3 linked regions of the Homo sapiens genome follow. The protein of the gene in region 2 purifies or fractionates together with the protein of the main gene of each other region. This does not show direct contact. Each region holds a gene or a part of one and is shown on either strand. Other genes may lie near its edges.

Evidence for each region.
Region 1: the proteins of PPP2R2B (region 2) and PPP2CB purify together in Homo sapiens (affinity purification with mass spectrometry; 5 studies listed by BioGRID and IntAct, with this or other methods). This does not show direct contact.
Region 3: the proteins of PPP2R2B (region 2) and MYO9A purify together in Homo sapiens (affinity purification with mass spectrometry; 4 studies listed by BioGRID and IntAct, with this or other methods). This does not show direct contact.

The regions. Positions count from the first base shown.
Region 1 is NC_000008.11:30,788,809-30,795,832, forward strand, and holds part of PPP2CB (serine/threonine-protein phosphatase 2A catalytic subunit beta isoform), read right to left. Parts: intron 5,474-7,024; coding exon 5,384-5,473; intron 5,271-5,383; coding exon 5,109-5,270; intron 2,508-5,108; coding exon 2,389-2,507; intron 1-2,388.
Region 2 is NC_000005.10:146,875,736-146,883,307, reverse strand, and holds the start of PPP2R2B (serine/threonine-protein phosphatase 2A 55 kDa regulatory subunit B beta isoform), read left to right. Parts: upstream 1-4,550; 5' UTR 4,551-4,717; exon of another isoform or gene 4,718-5,112; coding exon of another isoform or gene 5,113-5,236; coding exon 5,237-5,306; intron 5,307-7,572. UniProt on the Homo sapiens protein: The B regulatory subunit might modulate substrate selectivity and catalytic activity, and might also direct the localization of the catalytic enzyme to a particular subcellular compartment.
Region 3 is NC_000015.10:72,115,141-72,122,830, forward strand, and holds the start of MYO9A (unconventional myosin-IXa), read right to left. Parts: upstream 3,011-7,690; 5' UTR 2,540-3,010; intron 2,073-2,539; exon of another isoform or gene 2,053-2,072; intron 2,027-2,052; exon of another isoform or gene 1,711-2,026; intron 1-1,710. UniProt on the Homo sapiens protein: Myosins are actin-based motor molecules with ATPase activity. Unconventional myosins serve in intracellular movements. Regulates Rho by stimulating it's GTPase activity in neurons.

The DNA of each region.
Region 1 (7,024 bases), on a different chromosome or scaffold from region 2:
GCTTAGTTTTTTCCTGTGTAGAGGTCACACTTCCTTGTTCTTTCCATGTCTTATAATCTGTGGTTGAAAAATTGGACATTATAGATAACATATTGCAGTAGCTCTGGAATTCATGTCCTTGGGGACTGATCTTGTCTTTTTGGTGGTTTATTATTTTTGTTTAGTGACTTAGCTGAACTAACTGTAAAGTCTACTTCCCCCATAGTGTGCAGCCCCTGTGGCCCTGCTCGGATGTTTTTACTTTTTTTTTTTTTTTTTGAGTTTCACTTTTGTTGCCCAGGCTGGACTGCAATGGCGTGATCGCCGCCGCCTCCCAGGTTCAAGCGATTCTCCTGCCTCAGCCTCCTGAGTAGCTGGGATTACAGGCATGCGCCACCACACCCAACTAATTTTGTATTTTTAATAGAGACTGGGTTTCTCCATGTTGGTCAGGCTGGTCTTGAACTCCCGACCTCAGGTGATCCGCCCACCTCGGCTTCCCAAAGTGCTGGGATTACAGGCATGAGCCACCGTGCCTGACCGTTTTTACTTCTTTTAATCTTTCACAGCCTGGCTACTGAGGGGCTGTCTCTGGGTAGGCATAAGCCACTTACTGATCAAAGATTGTACTTAAGCCCCCTTGGCCAGTTAGATCTTAAAGCTCACCCTAATGGCCACCGGAAATGTTATGTGACTTGCAGATTGCTATCAAAGCTGAAGGAGTTTATATTTTGGCTTCCCATTCAGCCAGGGACTAATAGTTGGATCTTCATACTGCACTCAGTCCAGAGAGGGTATAACCTTGGGCATGCACATATTCTGCCAGACTGTCAGGGATGAGTGTGATTTTATTTTAAAGCCTGACTACCTAGGAGGTGCTCCTGGATCAGAGTAACTGAATGTCGTTCAGTCAATGATGAGAGGTTGTGTTTAAGCCTCACATACTAGTGATGGTTACACCATTTGTTGATCAATCTACTTATCCATTTCCTGGGGCTGCCGTAACAAATTACCGAACTGTATAGCTTATACAACGGGGATTTATCCTCTCACAGTTCTGGAGGCTACAAGTCTGAAAGCAAGATGCTGGGAGGACCACGCTCTCTCTGAAGGCTCTAGGAAAAATCCTTCCTAGCCTCTCCCTAGCTTCTGATGGCTCTGGCAATCCTTAGCTGGTAGATGCATCACTTGAATCTCTGGCTTCACACAGCATTCTCCCCTGTGTGTGTTTCTTTTCCTCTTACTAAAATCCCATTCGAATTGGATTTAGGCCCACCCTAATCCAGTACAATCTCATCTTTAATAATTATATCTGTAAAGATCCTATTTCCAAATAACATCACATTTTGAGGTTCTGGGTGGACATGAATTTTTTTGGGGGGACATTATTCAACTCAGTACAATCTATGTGTGGCTTGAAAATATTATATGAATACCCCACATCCTACTCTTGACTGCTCCTGAGTGGGTATGGCTAGTGCATGTGCACAGCCTTCTTGTCCCCCAGGGCTGACTGTGATCCCAGAAGGGCTCTTCTTGGCTTTTTCCCTGGTGCTATTTGTTGAACAACATGTTGCTCTGCTCTTTTGTATGTTGCTCCTAGTATCATGGGAGCTATTACAGCCCTCTTAATTGGTCTCCACCATGACATCTACTGCTTTCCACAAAGCACTCAGATTTGGAATTCTCCATCACCTAAGTAAGATAAGTCCTCTGAGGCAGAGCTGAGGAACTTCTGTGACCTGCCTTTCCTCCTGAGCAGAACTTCTGTGCCAGTGCAGGCTCAGTGATACCACCTGGTTTATAAGCAGGTGCTGGGGTAACAGCATTGGGAAACCCAGCATTCTCATCTGCCATGCATGCCTGGAGCAGAGCTTCTGCCCCAGGAGCTGGGGCAGGGAAGGGGGCCTCAGCCTGCTTGACTGTGTCTACCAGGAGTAGAGCTTTTGTAACTCCAGACTAGGAGAGGTGAGATATGCTGGCATCTGATCTCTGGGAGTGAACCCACAGCCCCAGCCCTGGGAGCTGATGAAGAGGGGGAATCCCTTAGCCTCCTGACTATACCAACCCAGCGTAGAGCGCCTGTAGTCGTTTCTGTGAGAGGGATCTGGGAGGAGTTGGAGGGGGCAAGTCATAGCTCAAATGCCACAGACTACGGCTATTATTACTGAGATTTAGTAGGTTTTCTTGAATTAACTGTTTCTCCACCTGCTGTATGCCCTTAGGACAATTTCCAAAAGCTTTGAAAAATTATTTTTTAAAAATAATGTTCTCCAGCTAATGGTTATTTTTGCTGGAGAGGGGCTTTGCTATACTCCTCATCCAATTTCAGAAACAGAAATCTTCTATTTTTAACATTTAAAATTTTCCTTCTGAAAGTATATACAATTAAAATTTACAGTTACTCACAAGGAATATTTTAAAGTGTCATCTAATTCCATGATAGCAGCCTGGTTCCCACAACGATAACAGTAATTGGGTGCACTGAAAATGGTAACCACATTCCGATCATGACACCAATTGTATCCCTGCAGGATAAAAACAAATTCATTATTTCATTATAATATTATGATTTTGACACAGACACATTTAAAAAAAACTAAACTCAAAAACTACAGGTACTCTCTGTGGAAATGTAGTCGTCTATATTACTATATAAGGTCTCCATCTTTAATAGTTTGTGTACCTGTAAAGAATACTGTGCAATTCGTGGGCCTAGGAGTCTGTTAAATGCAGCTCGCTAATTGTTGTTTTGCCGTATCTATGCTTGAAATCTTGGCAAGGATGTGTACTGAATTTCTCCCACAATCATAATTAATTTCTCAATTTTCCCTCATGAATTATGCCAATTTTTTCTTTATATATTTTGAAGCTATTACTAGGTAAATACAAATTTAGAATACTTTCTTCCTAGAGAACTGGGCCAGTTTTCATCAATAATCTCTTTATTTCTAATAATACCTTTTATTAGAGCCTATCTCATTCATATTATTAGCTATAGTATTATATATAGTGTGTATACATACATGCTAATTAATGTATGTGTATATACATATGTATATATACGTGTATATATGTATATATGTGTGTGCATATATGTATACATGTGTATATACATGTGTATATACATACACGTATATATGTATGTATACATGTATGTGTGCGCATATATGTATACGTGTGTATATGTGTATATATACGTGTGCATATATGTATACACACATACATGTGTGTATATATGTATACATATATATACATACATTAGTGTATGTATGTGTGTATATACACACACACACACATCCTGTGTTGCCCAGGCTGGAGTGCAGTGGTGCGATCTAGACTCACTGCAACCTCCAACTCCTGGGTTCAAGCAATTCTCCTGCCTCAGCCCCGAGTAGTTGGGACTACAGGTGCGTGCCACCACACCAGGTTAATTTTTTGTATTTTAGTAGAGACAGGATCTCACCATGTTGCCCAGGCTGGTCTCGAACTCCTGAGCTCCAGCAATCCGCTTGCCTCAGCCTCCCAAAGTGCTGGGAATAGAGGCACGAGCCACCACGCCAGCTCATTAGCTATATTTTTGATATTTTGATTAATTACTTGATATACCAATATACCATTTTCCAACTCTTACCTCTAGTTTGTGGTGTCTTTTTCTTTTTCCTCGTTTTTTTGAGACAAGGTCTCACCCTTTTGCCCAGGCTGGAGTGCAGCGGTACGATCATAGCTCACTGCAGCCTCAACCTCCTGGCCTCAAGTGACCCTCTCACCTCAGCCTCCTGAGTAGCTGGGACAATAGACATATGCCACCATGCCCAGCTAACTTTTTGACTTTTTTTTTTTTTTTATATAGAGATGAGGTCTCACTATGTTGCCCAGGCTGGTCTGAAACTCCAAGACTCAAGAGATCCTCCCACCTCGGCCTCCCAAAGTGCTGGGATTATAGGCATGAGCCACTTTGTCCAGCCAATCATTTATGTTTTAGGTACATCCCAAATAACAGCTAAATTTTGATTATTTATCCAATCTAAGAGTCTCTTTCAGGCTAAAATTTTAGTCTCTTTCTTATAATCACTGATATAATTAAATTTATTTTTACTATGTAAATTTGTGTTTTTTTTATCATGCTCCCTTGTTTCTACTGGGCTGGCGAAGTTTTCTCTAAACATCTTGAAGCCACTCCCTACTGGTCTGCAGGGATTATGTTGTTTATGTTCCCTTAGTAGTTGTATAACAGTTAATATTATAGTGGAGAAATCTGGCAGACATCATCTTAACTAAGCAATTAAAGTTGCCACCACCAGCATTGAGACAAGCAGATTTTAGGACCACTTGATACAATGCACGGAGGAGGACACACCATCTTTCTATGTCATGACTGCCAAAAATGCATACATTGAATCCCTAACTGCAAGGAAAACATCAGGCAAACCCCAACTGAGGGATATTTCTGTAAGATAAAATGCTCCTACTCTTCCAAAATGTCAAGAATGTGGAAAACAATGAAAATCGGAGGATTTCCACATCAAAGTAGAATGAATACAACCTAATCTTTGGATTCGACTATGCACATACAGTATGCACAAAAAATTAAATTTTGCTATTAAAGACATTAGTGAGACAATTAGCAAAATTTGAATAAAGTGTTCATATTAAATAACAGTACTATATGAACACAAATTTCCCAACTGTGATAACTATACGGTGGTTATGTGACAGTGTGTCCTTAATTTTACAAAATACACATAGAAAGTTGGTAGTAAAGGAGTATCTGTCTGCAACAGATATTCAAATGGTTCAGAAGAAAGTGTGAGGGGTGAAGAGGAAGAGAGACACAAAATGATAAAGCAAATATAGTAAAATATTTACAGTCAGGAATCTGAATGAAGCATACAGGGAATTATGGGGTACTATTTTTGTAACTTTTTTCTAAGTCTCAATTTCAAAAATGAGTTATAATTCTGCTCTGGTCTACTAGTGCTTTCCCTACTTGCTAAAACCAGCAAGTTTTTCCTCTTTTCACCTAGGTAATAAATGGTGAGGAATGTTTCTTAGTTAAGTCATAATGCCTTATTACAGAAGTATATACTAATCTGAAATAAAGATCATTCTGTCAGGAAAGTACATACCTCCATTACAAGCTGGTGGGCACGAGAAACCAGTGTGAGACCATTGGCATGGTTAAAGGTTTCAGAAATGTCTTGTCCAAATGTGTAGCCAGCACCACGTGGTGAAATACCCCATCCACCACGATCATCTGGATCTGACCATAACAGATCACACATTGGGCCCTGGCCAAGAAAAATAAGTACATGTTACAAATTATTATCAGTCATACTTTATCATCCTCAAAATGTGGTTATATTTTCTTTTCCTTTCTTCTTCTTTTTTAAATTAAGTTTACCTCATGTGGAACTTCCTGTAAACGATCCAGGGCTCTTATATGATCCAGTGTGTCTATGGATGGAGAGAGGCCACCATGGAGGCAGAATATCTATGTATGAATTAACAAAAGAGAATGTATTTGTTTTACTAACTCCAAACAGTTAACAAAGAGTAAATAATGGTTAAAAGTGTCAGTCCAAATAGTGCCAACATTTAAACATATTTTGTCCATCATTTTTTCTTCTTTACCCCTTCTCTGGTCAATGGTATCCCCATCCTTGGGGACCCACCATTAAATTTCTTTTTTTTTTTTTCCCCTCCCTCCCTCCCTTCCTTTTCTCTGGTCAATGGTATCCCCATCCTTGGTACCTACCATTAAATTTCTTTCTTTCTTTTTTTTCTCCCTCCCCACTTCCCTCCTTTCTTTTCTTTCTGTAGAGATGGAGTCTTGCTGTGCTGCTGAGGATGGAGAGCAGTAGCTATTCACAGCCTTGATCACTGCGCAATGCAGCCATGAACTCCTGGGCCCAAGCAATCCTCCTGCCTCAGCCTCCTGGGAAGCTAGGATTACAGGTGCATGCCACTGTACCCAGCTGTCATTACAGCTTCTGTTGGTTATTGCTGATATATACAATTTTTTGTTTCTCTTACAGCAAACACTCTGATTCCTGTTACTGGCTACAATAAATTTTCAGTTCCTTCATATTTTCTAAGTACATAATCAAGTCATTTGCAAAACTATTTTTGTTTTTTCTTCTCAATGTTTATACGTTTTAATTCTTTTTATTGCTTAGTGCATTGGCCAGGACTTCTAAAATAAAATGGAATAATACAAATGTTTTCTGTTTTGTTTTTTGTAAACTACCTAGTTTCAAGTCCATGCTCTAGGTATTCTGAATCAGAGAGAATAACGTAAGTTTTAACAAGCATTTTCTTTCTGATTTTGATTTTTTTTTTTTTTTTTTTTGAGACGGAGTTTCGCTCTTGTTGCCCAGTGCAATGGCGTGATCTCGGCTCACCGCAACCTCCGCCTTCCGGGTTCAAGCAATTCTCCTGCCTGAGCCTCCTGAGTAGCTGGGTTTACAGACATGTGCCACCATGCCTGGCTAATTTTGTATTTTTAGTAGAGACAGGGTTTCTCCATGTTGGCCAGGCTGGTCTTGAACTCCCAACCTCAGGTGATCCGCCCGCCTTGGCCTCCCAAAGTGCTGGGATTACAGGCATGAGCCACCTCACCTGGCCTGATGAGAAGGTTTCTAATGTTTAGCTGATAGTACAACTGGCGTTTCTTTATCCACTTAATATTATTATTTTATAAAATAACTGAGTTTTGAATCATAAATATAGGAATTTTTTTTCCAAATGACTTTGGTCTGATTTTATTTTTCTGTGCGTGCCACGTCTGGTTTGGCATTGAGGTTATACTAGGCATACGGTGTGAGTTTTGAACTCTCCATCTTTTCCCAAGTTCTAGAACACAGAAATTATATGTTCCTTAAAGGTTTGGTAGAATTAGCCTATAAAACTATTTACACCTGGTTGCTATTGGTTGTTTACTTATATTGGACGAATTTCTGCAAGCCAATTTTAATAACTGGTATTTTACTATAGTAAGCTTCATTCAGCTTTTCAAACTTAGTGCACTAAAGCTGCACCTGTT
Region 2 (7,572 bases):
GGCTCTGAGCCAAACCTGGACTAAGCACTTTCCTTACCTCTGAAGCCACCCAACAACCCTGTGAAGTAGCAACTATTGTTTTCTTCCATTTTGCAAATATAGAGGTTCAGAGATGTTAAACTACTCACCAAAGGTCATGAAATTTATAAATGCCTGAGCTGGGACACAAACCAGGACTGTCTGACACCTAAAGCCTCTATTAAGAATCTCCAGACTGGCTTAGGTCAAAGGTTTTAATAAAATTATAGATATTTAATGTGCTAATTGGACAGGGTGACCCAAAAGTTTCCTGTGTAGGAAGCATTAGCCTAAGGAAGGAAGAGTGGGTATGTGAGTGTTGGGGGAGGGGACCATGACAAGGGTGGTTAAAAAAACGAATGTATCCACATGCTGTCAATACTGAACTGGGTAACATAAGAAGGCTGTGTATTTGTAATTGGCCTTTTCTATGTAAAGCACAAGCCTGAAATAGGTCAGTCTTTCAGAGTTCCCTCTGCTGCCCCCTTTGAAGACTATGGCCCCTTTTACATAAACTGTAAATTAGACACTAAGTTCCATGACATCAGAGACTGACTACATCTTATACACTGATGTTGCTGAATCTATAATCCTATCCCAGTGTCTGACATAGTTAAGTACTTGCACATTTGCTGAACATTGATGATGGTGATGATGACGAAAGTAAATACTCATAGTAATAGCAATGTATTTTTTCCACGTATTATCTCATTTAATCCTTGTAATAACTCTATGAAACAAATACTATTCATTTTCCTAATTTATAGATAAGAAAATGATGCTTTAGGGAGATCTTGTAACTTGCTTGAGGACAGAAAAATAAGTGACAGAAAATGATATCGGAGCCTTGGCACTTAACATTGCACTATAGTCTGTCGATATAGAATGCATTTGCTGTATTGCTAAGAAAGTTCACGTTATTAAAATTAGATGATAGAATTTAAGTTCTATGAAGAAAGAAATTCTGTTTTATATAAATCTATATCCTTGGCACCTAGAGCAATTCTTTTTTTTTTTTTTTCTTGAGAAGGAGTCTTGCTCTGTCTCCCAGGCTGGAGTGCAGTGGTGCGATGCAACCTCTGCCTCCCGGGTTCAAGCAATTCTCCTGCCTCAGCCTCCCGAGTAGCTGGGACTACAGGCGCGTGCCACCATGCCTGGGTAATTTTTTGTATTTTTAGTAGAGACAGGGTTTCACCATGTTAGCCAGGATGGCCTCGATCTCCTGACCTCATAATCTGCCTGACTCAGCCTCCCAAAGTGCTGGGATTACAGGTGTGAGCCACCACACCTGGCCAGAATAATTCTTTACATAATTGCTTGGTAAATTTTGATCGTATATATGCATACAGGAATAAATCGAACCAATTATTTCAATAGGAATACAGCTTATGAGCTAGAAAATTTCCAGCTCACAACAGATTATTTTAATATGAATTTTAAGAAGGGGGGAGGTATGAAACCTAAATATTAAAGTAAGATATTCAGCAATTTATTCATTTGTTTAAGAAATGTTTGTCTCCAACAAATATAATTAAGCATCTACTAAGTGACAGTTAGTCAATAGAAAAGATCTAGTGAGGCCAGGCATGGTGGCTCACGCCAGTAATCCCAGCACTTTGGAAGGCCCAGTCAGGTAGATCACTGAGGTCAGGAGTTTGAGACCAGCCTGGCCAACATGGCAAAACCCCATCTCTACTGAAAAATACAAAAATTAGCTGGGTGTGGTGGTCCATGTCTTAGTCCCAGCTACTCAGGAGTCTGACGCATGAGACTCACTTGAACCTGGGAGGCAGAGGTTGCAGTGAGCCTTGATCGTGTCACTGCAATCCAGCCTGGGTGACAGAGAGACTCTGGCTCAGAAAAATAAAATAAATAAAATAAAAAAAGAAAATAAAAATAAAAGATCTAGTGAAAATGGCCAACAATAATAAGTAAACAAATATTATAAAACGCTGTAGGACATGAAAAAGACAAAAAAAAAATGTGGAGGCAGAAAACACCGGAAGTCAGGACTATCGTGTGGTCAGGGAATGCCTCAACGAAGCAGGGACAGTTAAGAGGCTGAATGCCAAGACATGAGGAAGTGGCAAAGAACATAGCATGCGGAAATGCCCACCACTTTTGGAAAGAACTTGACATTTTAGAGGAAAAGAGAAGTGGCCAGTGAGTCTTTTGAAGACTGATCTCTGCAGCCTACTCCCATCTCCCCCACTCTCTCCCCCACCCCGCCCCCCAGCTCCACAGTGGTGCACAGGGCTCTTTTCACTCCCTTACCTCCACCACAGGTCGTTGTGTTATGGCACAGAGCCAACAGCTTTTTTCCCCTTGGTTTTGGGTGGATGAGCTAGTTCTCTCATATTAGAAAAGAGTAGTTGGCCAAATGGAAACCTTGAAATCTACTTAAACAATGGAGACCTATCCAATCTGCCTTCTCAGAACATGTGTCTTAGGAAAAATGCCTGGACTGTTGAATAAATGCAGGAGAAAGTTTGCAGCATATGTGAAAAGAAAAATAAATAAACCCAGAGACTCGATCTGTGGAAGGGACATTCTCCCCATTGGTTACAATGGAAAATTCCTCAAGCACAGCCTGGCCAATGAGCCTGGGCCTACCTGATTCATCACACAGCTCTGTCCCAATCTAGCCCTTGATTCAGAAAGATACAGGGGAAATTTTCCCAAATACTATTCCAAGGCCTCCTGAAACAATTTTAAGATCATTCCAACCGAAGGCACAATGTCTTCTCATCATTTTGATTCACTAAGAGATGAACTTAGCTTTTCCCCACTCTGCTCCTACTCCAAATTGTGCCAATATCCAAGAGAAGCTGCAATGTGTAACTACAAAAGGACTGAATGTTGGAACCTCGGTGATAGATACAGCTCATCCCATGGAAGAACCAGCCACGACAACTTGTACTGAAGTGGATTAAATCAACTTGTACCCGTCTTCACCTGTTACTAAAATTTTAAATGTGGATTTTGAACAAACAAGTGTATAAGTCTTAAGCACTAGATGAAAATAAAATAGAATCTATTGAAAGTTGAACTGAACTCCCCCCACCACACACACACACACACACACACACACACACACACACACACACACAAAATAACTATGTCAAGGAACATTTCTGCTCTTTTCTCCCAGGGATATGCAGTCAATTTCTGGAGATGAGGAAGATGTCATTTTCTATCTACCAGAAGTATCCATACTGCATGGAAATCTAATGACAATTCCCAACCTCAGTTAAGGACTTGTTTTTCCATTTTTCTGAACTTCAAATACTTTCTAAATTGTGTTAGCCGAAGCATTGTATGTATATAATTAACTCATAGGTCCCTCTGGGCCCATCTAGCTAAACTTGTGGAGCTTAACTGAGCAAAACATTTGCTGATGTCTCTCCCTACAGTGGTACCCATTGAAATGAATACCTTCTACAAGATGAAACCTAGGAAATGTCGTTTCCAATTGGCTTTCTACTGATTGGGGTTGATGTCTTTTCCAAATTGGCTTTCTAGTGATTTGGGTTGCTTCATTAAATGTTTTTGGTTGTTTCATAACAATAGTAATCTCATTTTCTTTCAAAAGTAGAGTTTGAAATTTGGGAAAACATGGGTGGGGAGGGAATTCTACATTTTCTTCCTAGTTGAAGTAGGAAGACAGGTCTCTTTTCTGTATTAATTGGACTCCTGAAATTCCCCCAGGGTAGCAGTGGCTCTCTGTGGGCACAGGGCTCTTATGCTTATGTTTCTGTGCTTCAATGTACCTTCCATGCTGACAGCAAATAGAAGGTGTTCCTGCACAAGCAAAACCTAACGGAGAGGCTGCAATAATTTGTCCAAAACGAAGTGCAAACTGCAAGGGAGAGTGGACTTTTTCAGACTGATCCTGTTTACTAGTCTGGTGCTTTCCTCCACCTGTGTAGACACAGATGCTTTATTGAACACCAGCCTCCTACAGTTAGAAGGTATTTTGACTCTTAGGAATGGGGGAACCAGTTGCAAAGTTCTGGCCCCTGATCCCCCTCCTATTCCTACTAGAGGGCTTAAGATAGGCTCTGAGCGGCACTTCCCACTTTCTCCTCTTTTTCTGAAGCTTCGAGCCCCAAACCTCGCCCTTTAAATTCACCAAGGGACCACATGCATCATATAAGGGTGAGGAAAAGGGACCTGGATGTAGACTTCCTGACTATCCAAAGGAACCTACTTCTCTTTGCTGTTCTCAAGTTCAGGCGTCCGGAGAAAGGCAGGGAGCTAGGGGCTCTGGGTGCTAGCGTAGACGTGGCCCTTAGCTGAGTGGCGCGAGAGGGGAGGAGGTTGGAAGAGCGCGTCTATGCGTTCCACCTGAACCTGCAAGCTAGTCGCTTGCTGCCCAGGTGCCGATTCGCGGCTGCATGCGCCCCACTGCAGCAAAGAGCAGCCGCAGCCTCTGCCTCGGCCACCACTGCTGCTGGGAAAGAGTCGTGGGGCTGCTGACGCGGTTGGGAGGAGCCTCGCCTTTAATGCACCAGCCGCCTCCAGCCTCCTGCAGCAGCAGCAGCAGCAGCAGCAGCAGCAGCTGCGAGTGCGCGCGTGTGGGTGTGAGGGTGAGTGCGCTGGCGCCGGCTGCAGCGCCCTGCCCAGCTCCCCGCCAGCTTCCCTACCCCCGCCTGCCGGAGCCGCCCTCCCGTGGGACCAGCACCCTCATTCCGGCCAGGCAAGCCTGAATCCTGTCCCTGCCATCTCGCCACTGCAGCTCGGGTCCAGAAAGGCACCATTTTGTCGCGGCTGCCCGCTCTCCCAGGGGGAGGAGGGATCTTTTTTGCATTTTGGAGCGGCTGCCAAGGAGGGGAACCTGTTGGGCATCTCCCCAGACCCGCTTGTGAGCGCCTCCGGGGCGGGCGGGCGGGACCAGACCCCTCGGGGCACGGCGTATCTTGGCACCCGGAGGCAGCGGAGGCAGGCGCAGCATCCTCGCTGGGAACTGGAGCTGGAGTGAGCGCACCGCGCGGGAGGAGCCGCCGCAGCCTCGCAGAACCCGAGTGGAGGAGGTGACAGCTCCATTGCCGGGTTTTTATTTTTTTTCTCTCCGCCTCCCCGTCTCCTCCTCAGGCTCGGACCATGGTGCAGTCCCACTGGCTCCCCTGCCCCCCTCTCCTGTGAGACTGGCTGCGGGGAGGGATCATGGATACTTGTCTGCCGGCTTCTGGTTCCCACGCAAGTAAGCCTGCTGTCAATGGAGGAGGACATTGATACCCGCAAAATCAACAACAGTTTCCTGCGCGACCACAGCTATGCGACCGAAGGTAACGCCAGCCCCGCCGCATTCCGCCGTTGGGGCCGGGCGCAAGTTGCGGATCACTGTGCTTCCTGGGCAGCTGGGCGCGTAGTGGCGGAGACTCCTCCGGGCCCTAGGGCTGGGGCGGGGGCTCGGCTGGCCCCGGCAGCCCCAGTGCACCTCGCATCCATCCGGGCTCCGCGAGGCGAGCTCGGCGTTCAGCAGCAGGTGGACCCGGCGCCCACGGGAGTTAAAATGGCCCTCAGGGATTAGGCTTTTTCAGGGTGGGGCTCTCGCCCAGAAAGATGACCCCAGGAAGGCAGATGACCCCTTCCCCGAGATGTTCGCAGGGGTCTTGGGGGGAGATAAGAAGGGAGGGGCCCAGTAGGACCTTGGTCCCCCCTCCCTGAGCGAAACGATGTTATGTCTCTCAGTGGCTGCAGGGAGGGCAAGGTTTCATTTCCTGCCCATTCATCTCCCCGGCCGGCCAGGTTACCTGCTTAGACAATCAAAACCCCAAAAAGCCCTTTGCAGACGGGCGAACCTCTTTCCTTTTGGAAGTGCATTAGCAAAAATAAAAAGGTGGCTGGGGAAATAGTGCTCTGGCGGGCAGCGAATGAGGCTGACACGTGGGGTGAGCAACGCGATCGGTGGGGCCTTTAAAAATCACCATTATGAATTCTGCAGCAGTAGTTTCTGCTGAATCAACAGCCAGCAGAAAGCAAAAGGGTTCAGCAAGCTGAGCTTTGCCAAGAGGTGAAATTGTCGTCTCTCCCTCTCTCCCAGCTTGTTCTGACATAAGCACTAGTGCTGTGCGGGCAGGAAGGGAAAGTCAGCAGGTGGAATCTCATTCTGCCTTTTGTGTGTGAATAGAGAGTAGAGGCATTTTTTTCCCCCAGTGCCAAAACTTTTGCATTTTTGCTTTCATTTTCTACCTGTAGGCCTTTTATCCTTAGCCACTCATACAAAGTGTTGCATTATCACATTGTAATATCCATGCGAGAAAATGTATGTGGAAATGCTTTAGGACAATGTTGCAAGGTGTATTAATTTAAAATTATTATTCTTGGATGCTAACATTTCTGTAATATTTAATCAAATCAAAAGACTGCTAGAGAAATGTGATGGGGGGAGTAAAAGAGTTCAAGCTCTGAAAGAAATAAAAAGACACACACACATCTGGGGGTAAAGGTGGCATCTTCTATAAACATCCCTGGAAGTTCTAGACAGAAAGAATGTCCAGTGCTATTGAAAGTATATTCTCCATTTGTCATCATTTTTGGAGAGCATCAAGCCCAGTATGCCCATGGTGCTAGACAGATAAAGCAGAGTTGTAAGCTCTGGCTTCCAGGAGCTTAGAGATGGCTTTTAAGATGTGCAGCCCATCCCTCCCCTATACAGAGCACCATACTTACCGATTCTTTTTCTGTGCATGATGGCAACCTGATTGTAAGATGTTCTCCCTCAATCTTAGTGCTTTGTCACTGACTCAGTGACCTGATAGCACATGACTAACTCTGTATCTAAGCATGTCATCCAAGAGAGAAGTTGGCCTTGGGTCTGTTGGCTTTTGGGGGAACATTTATTTCTGTTTGTAACCACAAAGAAAGAGAGCTGCCTTCATGTTTTCTTGTATATTACATTATGCAGGCAAGAGAAACTTAGCAAGCTGAGAAAATGCCCAGAGTGGAGCTATGTGTACAGGAGTGTCAATTGTGAAGTGAAGAAATCAGTTAAAAATGGCATTCTTTATTGTTTTCAGGGCCCTGGATATTACCGTTGTTCTTATTTTTATTCCATTTTTGAAAACTCTGATTCTGGATAGAATATCTAGGTTCACATAGTCAAAAATAGATATGAGTTTATAGCAATGAGATTTCTGGCATGTGAGAATCAACCTCTCAGATTTCTTTCTCTTTCTCAAACACACACACATACTAATCACACTCAAAACTAACAAACCTTTATTTCACAGAAGCTTCTAGGTTTTAAAATCTGATCTTAGAGAAGGTATGAAAAGAAAAGGAAAATAGAACTTAAACGATGTAAATACCAGAAGTTGGATAGAACAAGAAGTTCCCTACAGTTTTGACCTATTCGTTTCAGGGAAGATTCATGCAATTTTGTTGCCAGAGGGGGAAGAGTCCCTGTTCTTCCAATGAATTCCTTAAGAAGTGTTAGTATACCTTGAAAAAGCACCAGATCAAAAGACTTTTTAAAAATTCTCCTCACTGGGGACTTGCCCCACAAGTTTTCTTCCCCCTTATTAACTTATACCCTCTTACTGGGTGGGG
Region 3 (7,690 bases), on a different chromosome or scaffold from region 2:
TAAGTTTTTTAAAGGCACTTAATCATGTAATTTACTAATTTAAATATTCAACTCTACCTGTAATTTAAATGTTGGGTTTCCATCCTAAAACCTTTTCTCCTCCCTTCTGTATGATTTTGCCTCCAAAATCTACTGCTATCAACCCAGAACCTGATACTGAGCTTCAGCCACAAATCCAAATGCCTAATGGTCATCTACATCTGACAGAACTACAGTCACCTAAACTGAACATGTCACAAATTAACCCCTCTATCCTTCCTCCTTGACAAAATAAAAACAAAATCCCACTCCTTCATGGGAATCCCCACCTCAGTGAAAGGCACAAGCCAGAAACCTAGATTTTATCCTGTATGCAACTTCTCCCCAACCCCAAATACAATAAAATCACCAACTCAACTCCGAATATCCAAGTTCAGATCCAGTCTCACCATTTGCCTGGATAACCCTAATATTCCTGGCCTTTAGTCTTATTCTACTCTTCAATTCACTGCAGCCAGAATGACTTTTTTAAAATGCAAATCTGATCATTCCAGTCCCCTGCTTTAAAATCCTTCAATAATTTAATAAATATTATAATCATCATCACAGCTAGTCACACTGTGGAAGCTCAGAGGTTCAATGAGAAATTTAGTTACATCCTTTCTGTAGGTTCAACATAAAAGAATCATCAGGAATTTTTTTCAACTCACAAAATTATTTAAACATACATATAACATCAGACACATTTAAAAGAAAAGCATGTAACATTGTTGGTAAAAGCAAAACACCAAAAATAACCTCCAGTCCACAAAAATGGAATACTATCCAGCCAGTAAATGAGGCACTTCCATATGTATTGTTAAGAAATGACCTCTAGGATGTAGTATTAAGTAAAAAAAACAGGCTATGTATAGAATGTAAAGTATGCAACCATTTGTGTACAGTGTCTTAAAAATATAAATGTGTAGGTTTATATATTGGAAATATCACAGAAAGGATACACATGAAGCTGGAAATAGTGGTTGCCTCTAAAGAGGAAAAATGGGTGGCTGGAGAGTGAAGGCGGAACAGAAATTTTTACTACATTACTCTTCCGAAACTTTTGGCTTTTACGTCTAGTTATTATCTATAATTTTAATGTGATTTTCTCCTGTTACTTTAACATTTTTTACTGTGTGTGTGTGTATGACTACAAAGACCTCTTTATATTTCATCTTTATACCAATATTAAAATTACGTACTGATCATTTGATGCAACATTACATTTCTTTCTTGACAACTCAGGAGCTCAACTTCTACAAACATTTTATTCAACATTTTACTGCTATTGAGAAGGCTGTTGTTGGTAATGACCTCAGTGAACACTGCATGATTTCTGTACTTGCTTCTTGGAGAAGCAAGACAGCAGCACCAGGCAACAGAAGTTTATTATTAAACCGACATCGAAGCATTCAGGGATTAAGGAATGCTACAAATCTTATTTTTCTAGCAAATCCAAAAAACAGTGAATCCAAAAAAAGTCCCCTAGTATCCTTTAAAAATAAAAATAAGAAACAGTTCTAGTATCTGCAGCAATCGACAAGGAGGTGAAGTAATACTACAAGACGACATAGTTATATCCACTAGTGCAACGTGATTTAATCCTTACAGAGGTCCCTAAAACATCAGTGCTGGACAACCTCACACGTTCTACACAGAACAGACAAGACGAGGTGCAGGCTCTGTGACCTTATAATGGCACACACACAACTGGCCTCATGCTTCCATAACTTCACTCTGCCTCCCACTTTTTTCAGCCCAACCCCTCCAAACATGGGTCTCGGTCGGTCCCCTTAAGCCACAATGGAGGGAATACATTAGGCTAAGCAAATATTCCCTCAGGATTTCATGGCAAAGCCCTTTCAACCAAAGAAAGGATCGCGACTAAGGAGAAAGATAACAAGGTTTGCTTGAGGAGAGGTCTGTTGAGAGAGGCTACAGTCGGTGGTGGGAGAGAAGCCAAAGTCTGTGACGGTGTCTAGAGGGACTGACACCACATCTACCGGGAGTAAGAACACCATGACAGCGGCTATCTGAAAGCCGTGATGGCTAGGGTTAGTGCTAGTCGGCTTGGTGATGAGCGAGCTGGGAGGGGTTCTACTAAGAAGAGTAGGGCGAGGGGCACATGGGGGACGCAATGGGTTAGGGGGCGGTCGAGACTTTGCCTGAGAACTGTAATCACGTCAGCCCAAGGGAGGATGTAACGTAGTCTAGAAGCTCCATTAAGAGTCCTAAGGGACTCTGAGGGGTACTAATGGGGTCTGCTGGGTTGGGGGGACCGTGACAGAATCTCCGGGGAGGCTGGAGGGCCGGAATGGTGCCCGGCCAATGGAAGATACAGGGGGTGGGGTCTACTGGGGATCCGGGGCCGTGATCTGGTGTTTGGGAGGCTCGGCGCAGACCCGCTCGCGGGGCGTCTCCGCTGGGACGGGGCGGGGCGGCCCGACCGGAGCCAAATAGCGAGGCTGAGACGTGGGCCAGGACGGGCTGCAGGGCCGCTGGGCGCTTGGGCGGGTCTTACCTCGGGCTCCGCCGCGGTGGCCACCGCAGCCCCCTCCTCTTCGACGGAAGCTGCCTTCCACCCTCCGCCCCAGGGTAGGACCGGAGATGGCAGAAGAGGCCGAGGCCACCGAGGGTCGGACGGTTCCGGGAGGGTGGGCCCAGCAGCCTCAGGGTCCGGGCGAGCGGCCGCGGCGCATCCCCCGCCCTGTCAGAGAGACTCCGCCCGGCCTGAGCAGGCACATCCCCCGCCGCACCCCGCCCAGAGAGCACGCGTTGGACCGCCGCCTCAACCGCTGCCAGCGGCCGCCTCTGCCGGTGCAACTACTGCCTCCGCCGCCGCCTCTCGCAGTCCGGGCTGTCCTGTACTCTCTCAACAGACACAGCCAACCGCCGCCGCGTCCCTTATCCGCTTCGGTCGCGCGCCCCCGACCCCGCGCACGCGGCCCCGCCCCGCGCGACTCCCCGGCTGCAGGCGAGCAGGCGCGCGCGCACTTACCTCCCACGCCCCCTACTGCCAGCACGGGTCGGCCCCGCCCTGTCCCGCCCCCGCACGTGACGCCACTGGAGAGTACAGCGTGCGCTTGCGCAGACACGCCCCCTTTCCTACGCCCCAGGCGGCCCCGCCCAAATTTTTTCTTCTTCACCTTACGGCAGAGCAGGGAACTCAGCTTTAGATTCTCCCTGTACTGGAAAGGGATGTCGCAAGGTTGGGGACGAAACCTCTGAGTTTGCGACCGTAGCTGTCGCTTTCCGGCCAACACAGAGGTGCCTGAAGGCTGGTTGGGGTGGTGAGGCCCGAGGCAGGTAAGAAGCCTCCTCCCCACTTCGGTTTGTCTCGGCAGTGGATCGCTCTCCCACCCACTCAGATTCTGGCGTATCCGTGCTCCCTCCCGATTCTGGACCTGGATTCTCAGCGCCGCCGGTCATAGCCCCCGCCCCTTTTCAAACACGCACGCTCTCTCCACCCACTGCCCCCTCCATTGTCCCCGCCCCGACCTCCGTTTCCATTCATTTCTCAGACTTTTCACTGAGTGGTTTCCATGCCTTGGGTTCCAGAATGTCAGAGGCGAATTAAGTGGTGTCAGCTTTTTGAAGTGCTTTTGTATAGGAGACCGTGAGAGAATCCGCAGTGGTAGTACAATAAAGTGACAATAGAGAAAAATGCACGGGATGCTGTCTGCGCACAGAAGAGGGGTCCCAGGTTGTGTAGGAGGATAACGTGAGGAAGCCCTTTCCAGGGTGACTTTTGGGTCACTTTTAGAGGACTGTGTTAAAAGACTAGTAATCCAGTACCTGGTCAAAGAAATACGAAAGGAGGTAAAAGCAGAATAACGGGCGCAAGAGCATGTGACAGTGGTGGTCTGAAAGAGAAAAAAGAAGTAAAATAAACCTGATGGAAACCGTACTAGTGTAGACTTCCCTTTAAAGAAGCATCGTTATAAAGTTAGAGAAATGAGGAACGAGAATATGGCCCTCAGGAATGTTTTCTGTTTAGGTAGAAGACTCAAAAGCGTACCATGAAACCGAGAAGTGGCCTCTTCGAGGGTGAGGGAGGCTAATTTATAAGATCAAGATCACTAGTGGAACGCAACCTTGTATGTGCATTTGAATCACCTGGGAAACTTTTTGTTAAATAAAACCAATACTGTTGCCCCACTCTAGACCAATTAAATTCTGGGTTGTGCCAGGTGTCATTACTGTTTTAAAGCTCCACAGGTGACTCTAATGCTAAAGATTGAGACTCACTAAACTAGAGAGAAGGAAGTTGAGACAGTTGGCTCTGTAACATTAAGATGGAGGTCATTTAGCCGGGCGCGGTGGCTCACGCCTGTAATCCCAGCACTTTGGGAGGCCGAGGCGGGTGGATCACGAGGTCAAGAGATCGAGACCATCCAGGCCAACATGGTGAAACCTCGTCTCTACTAAATATACAAAAAATTAGCCGGGCGTGGTAGCAGGCGCCTGTAGTCCCAGCTACTCGGGAGGCCAAGGCAGGAGAATGGCATGAACCCGGAAGGCGGAGCTTGCAGTGAGCCAAGATCGCGCCACTGCACTCCAGCCTGGGTGACAGAGCGAGACTCCGTCCCCGCCCCCAGAAAAAAAAGATGGAGGTCATTTAACTACAGAGAGGCTTGGAGATGGAATGAGAAACTTGAGCGGCGTTATGTTTGGAATAACTGGTCTGGGAAATGGGAGAAGGAGCCACTCTTGCCTTTCTCTTCAGCACTGTTCATTCCTCAGTGTTTATCAGGTCCAAATTAGTTACTTGTCTCTTTGCTCTCCCGTTCCCTTCCGTCCAGGATTGGTCAGCTGTTGTCTCCAGCCTTAAAGCTCAAAGGCCATCCCCACTTCTGTCCCCAAAATGATCAGAGCTAAGCCAATTTATGAGATGCAGAGACCAACATCCAGAGCTAAGCCAATTTATGAGATGCAAAGACCAACATCCACTCTCATAGAGATTACTACATACAGTGCCTTGCCAATTTAGAATCTTTTTCTATTATTTATCATTTAAGTTAGTAATGAGATATAAAGATATTTAAAATACAGCTCAATTAGGATGGAAAATTACCGTATTAGGGAAAGCAGGCCTTTAAACAAAGAATTCACTTGGCAGGCAGAGAAGCTGTATGAGGTAAAGACCAAGACAGTGTATGGCTGCTATCTATTAACTAGGGTTAATCCAAAAACCTGTCTATCAGACCCAGATAAGAACGAGTTATTGTTGTCTAGTATGGCTAGAGCATAGTATGGAGAGTAGAGGTGGGACAGAGATGAAGATGATAAAGTGGGTGTGAACAGATTATGAGGAGCCTTGAATTCCATGGTGAAGAGTTTAGATTATATTACTAGAAGTAATTAATAAGTACAAAAAAGGTTCTTAACCTCTTTTACCCAGTGGACCTTGTTGGCAGTCCACCTTATAGATTCAGTCTCAGAAAAATGTTCTTAAATATATAAAATAGAATACGTAGTAATATAAAGGAAACTAATTTTGTTAAGTTTTTAAAATATTAAAACAAATGTGTGATATATATGCACTTTATGCATTAAATAAAATCTGGCAGCAGGTCTAATTATATAATTTCTAAGTAGTGATGACTATAAATTATATTTTGAAATGCCTGCAGCAACTTTAATGTGATGTGAAAATATCAGATTTCTATTGGTAAAAAAGAGAGTGCTAATATTGTAGTTTGTGGTCCACACTTATTGAAGAAATGCTAAATTTCAGCTACTGATTATTGAAAACAAAGATGCAATTGTTTTCCCAGTCTAAGTTCACAGAACCCTGATATTCTAGCCACATCCTGGTCTATGGATCCTAAGTTTTAAAATATCTCAGTATAATGGTTTTAAGCAAGAGCATGACATCAAATCTGTGTTTCAGAAAAATGATGAAGCAGTGTTCACTTCCCAACCTCTCTGCTGGGATGAGAGGCTGGCTCTGGGGCAGCAACCAGTACTATCCCACTGTTTCCTAATAACCAGGGCCTGCAGAGGGACTGAGCTTGTGGGTGTATATGTCTGTGAGAGTAATACCAGAAAATAAATCAGGAAAGGTAGATTGGGGCTATTTTTGTGGAAATCATTGAATGCCAGGCTGTAATTTGTAGTTACTTTGGTAGACAATGGAGGGTTGTTAAAATTTTTTGGAGTAGAATAATGTGATTAGAGTTCTGTTTGAAAATCTAGAATAATGTGCAGGTTAGATTATCAAAAGAGAAGATAGGAATGAAGAGACTAGAACAATAAGTTAATTAATTTTTGAAAAATGGAATCTTGGGCCAGGTGCAGTGGCTCAGGCCTGTAATCCCAGCACTTGGGGAGGCTGAGGCAGGAGGATCACTTGAGCCCAGGAGTTCAAGACCAGCCTGGGCAACAAAGTGAGACCGTGTCTCTCCAAAAAAAAAAAAAGAAAATTAGCCAGACATAGTGGTGCCTGCCTGTGGTCCCATCTACACGGGAGACTGAAGCAGGAGGATTACATGAGCCCAGGAGGTCGAGGCTGCAGTGTTCATGCCACTGCACTCCAGCCTGAGTGACAGAGAGCCTGTCTCCAAAAAAAATCTTGAGGTGATCTCTAGAGTCTGCTAAATTCCTTTATTTCCACAATGTGCTGACCAGTCTAGAGTAACATACATTGGAATAAATGGCATACCTGTCAACAGGAATATATACCCCAGTGTGGGAGTCAGTTAACTTTATGTGGTCAAGAGGCTAGCCCAGTCTTTTGTATTATAAATGATATTGTTAGTACTTCTAATAAAGCAATGGCCTTACCATAAGTTCACAGATCTTGCCAAGGCCTTCCTCAGTCAAACTCCATCTATACCTGTGAGTCCTACATTTCTGACTTTTAAAAGTCAGAACCTGTCTATACCTGTGAGTCCTACATTTCTGTCTTTTAAAAGTCAGAACTCCTCTCTTTTTGCCAATTCCTTAAACTTCTTGGATGGGAAAGAAGTTTAGTTTAAACACATTAGCAAAAGAATGGGAGGTCCTCAAGGCCCAGGCAACCCATCTCCTTTGAAACTGATCAATACCGGACTATAAAAACTTACTGCTCAAATCCAGCTAGTACCCAAAGTATGTACTGTCTATATACCTGTCTATACCTGTGAGTCCTACATTTCTGACTTTTAAAAGTCAGAACTCCTCTCTTTTTGCCAATTCCTTAAACTTCTTGGATGGGAAAGAAGTTTAGTTTAAACACATTAGCAAAAGAATGTGAAGTCCTCAAGGCCCAGGCAACCCATCTCCTTTGAAACTGATCAATACCGGACTATAGAAACTTACTGCTCAAATCCAGCTAGTACCCAAAGTATGTACTTTTTAAATGTATTCTAAAAAATTGAATTTGGGGTTTAGGTATTACTGATCCAAATGAGTCCTATAAAATTAACTTCCAGAACTAGGTTCTCAGAGAGGCCACCATTACCACCTTCTTCAACATAACTAGCCTATATTGACTTTCTGTCCATCAAATAATTGGAGGCCATTTGGGTGGTGATAGGAAGAATTAAGTTTATGCAGAACTTGAGGTTCAGCTATCTGACACCTTTTGCGGGAGGAGGAGGAGTGGGTCTATCTGAAATCAGAAATAATACTTTTATGAGGCTTTTTAATAATTTTTATTACTTACAGAAAATTTCTGAAAGTTCCTTTC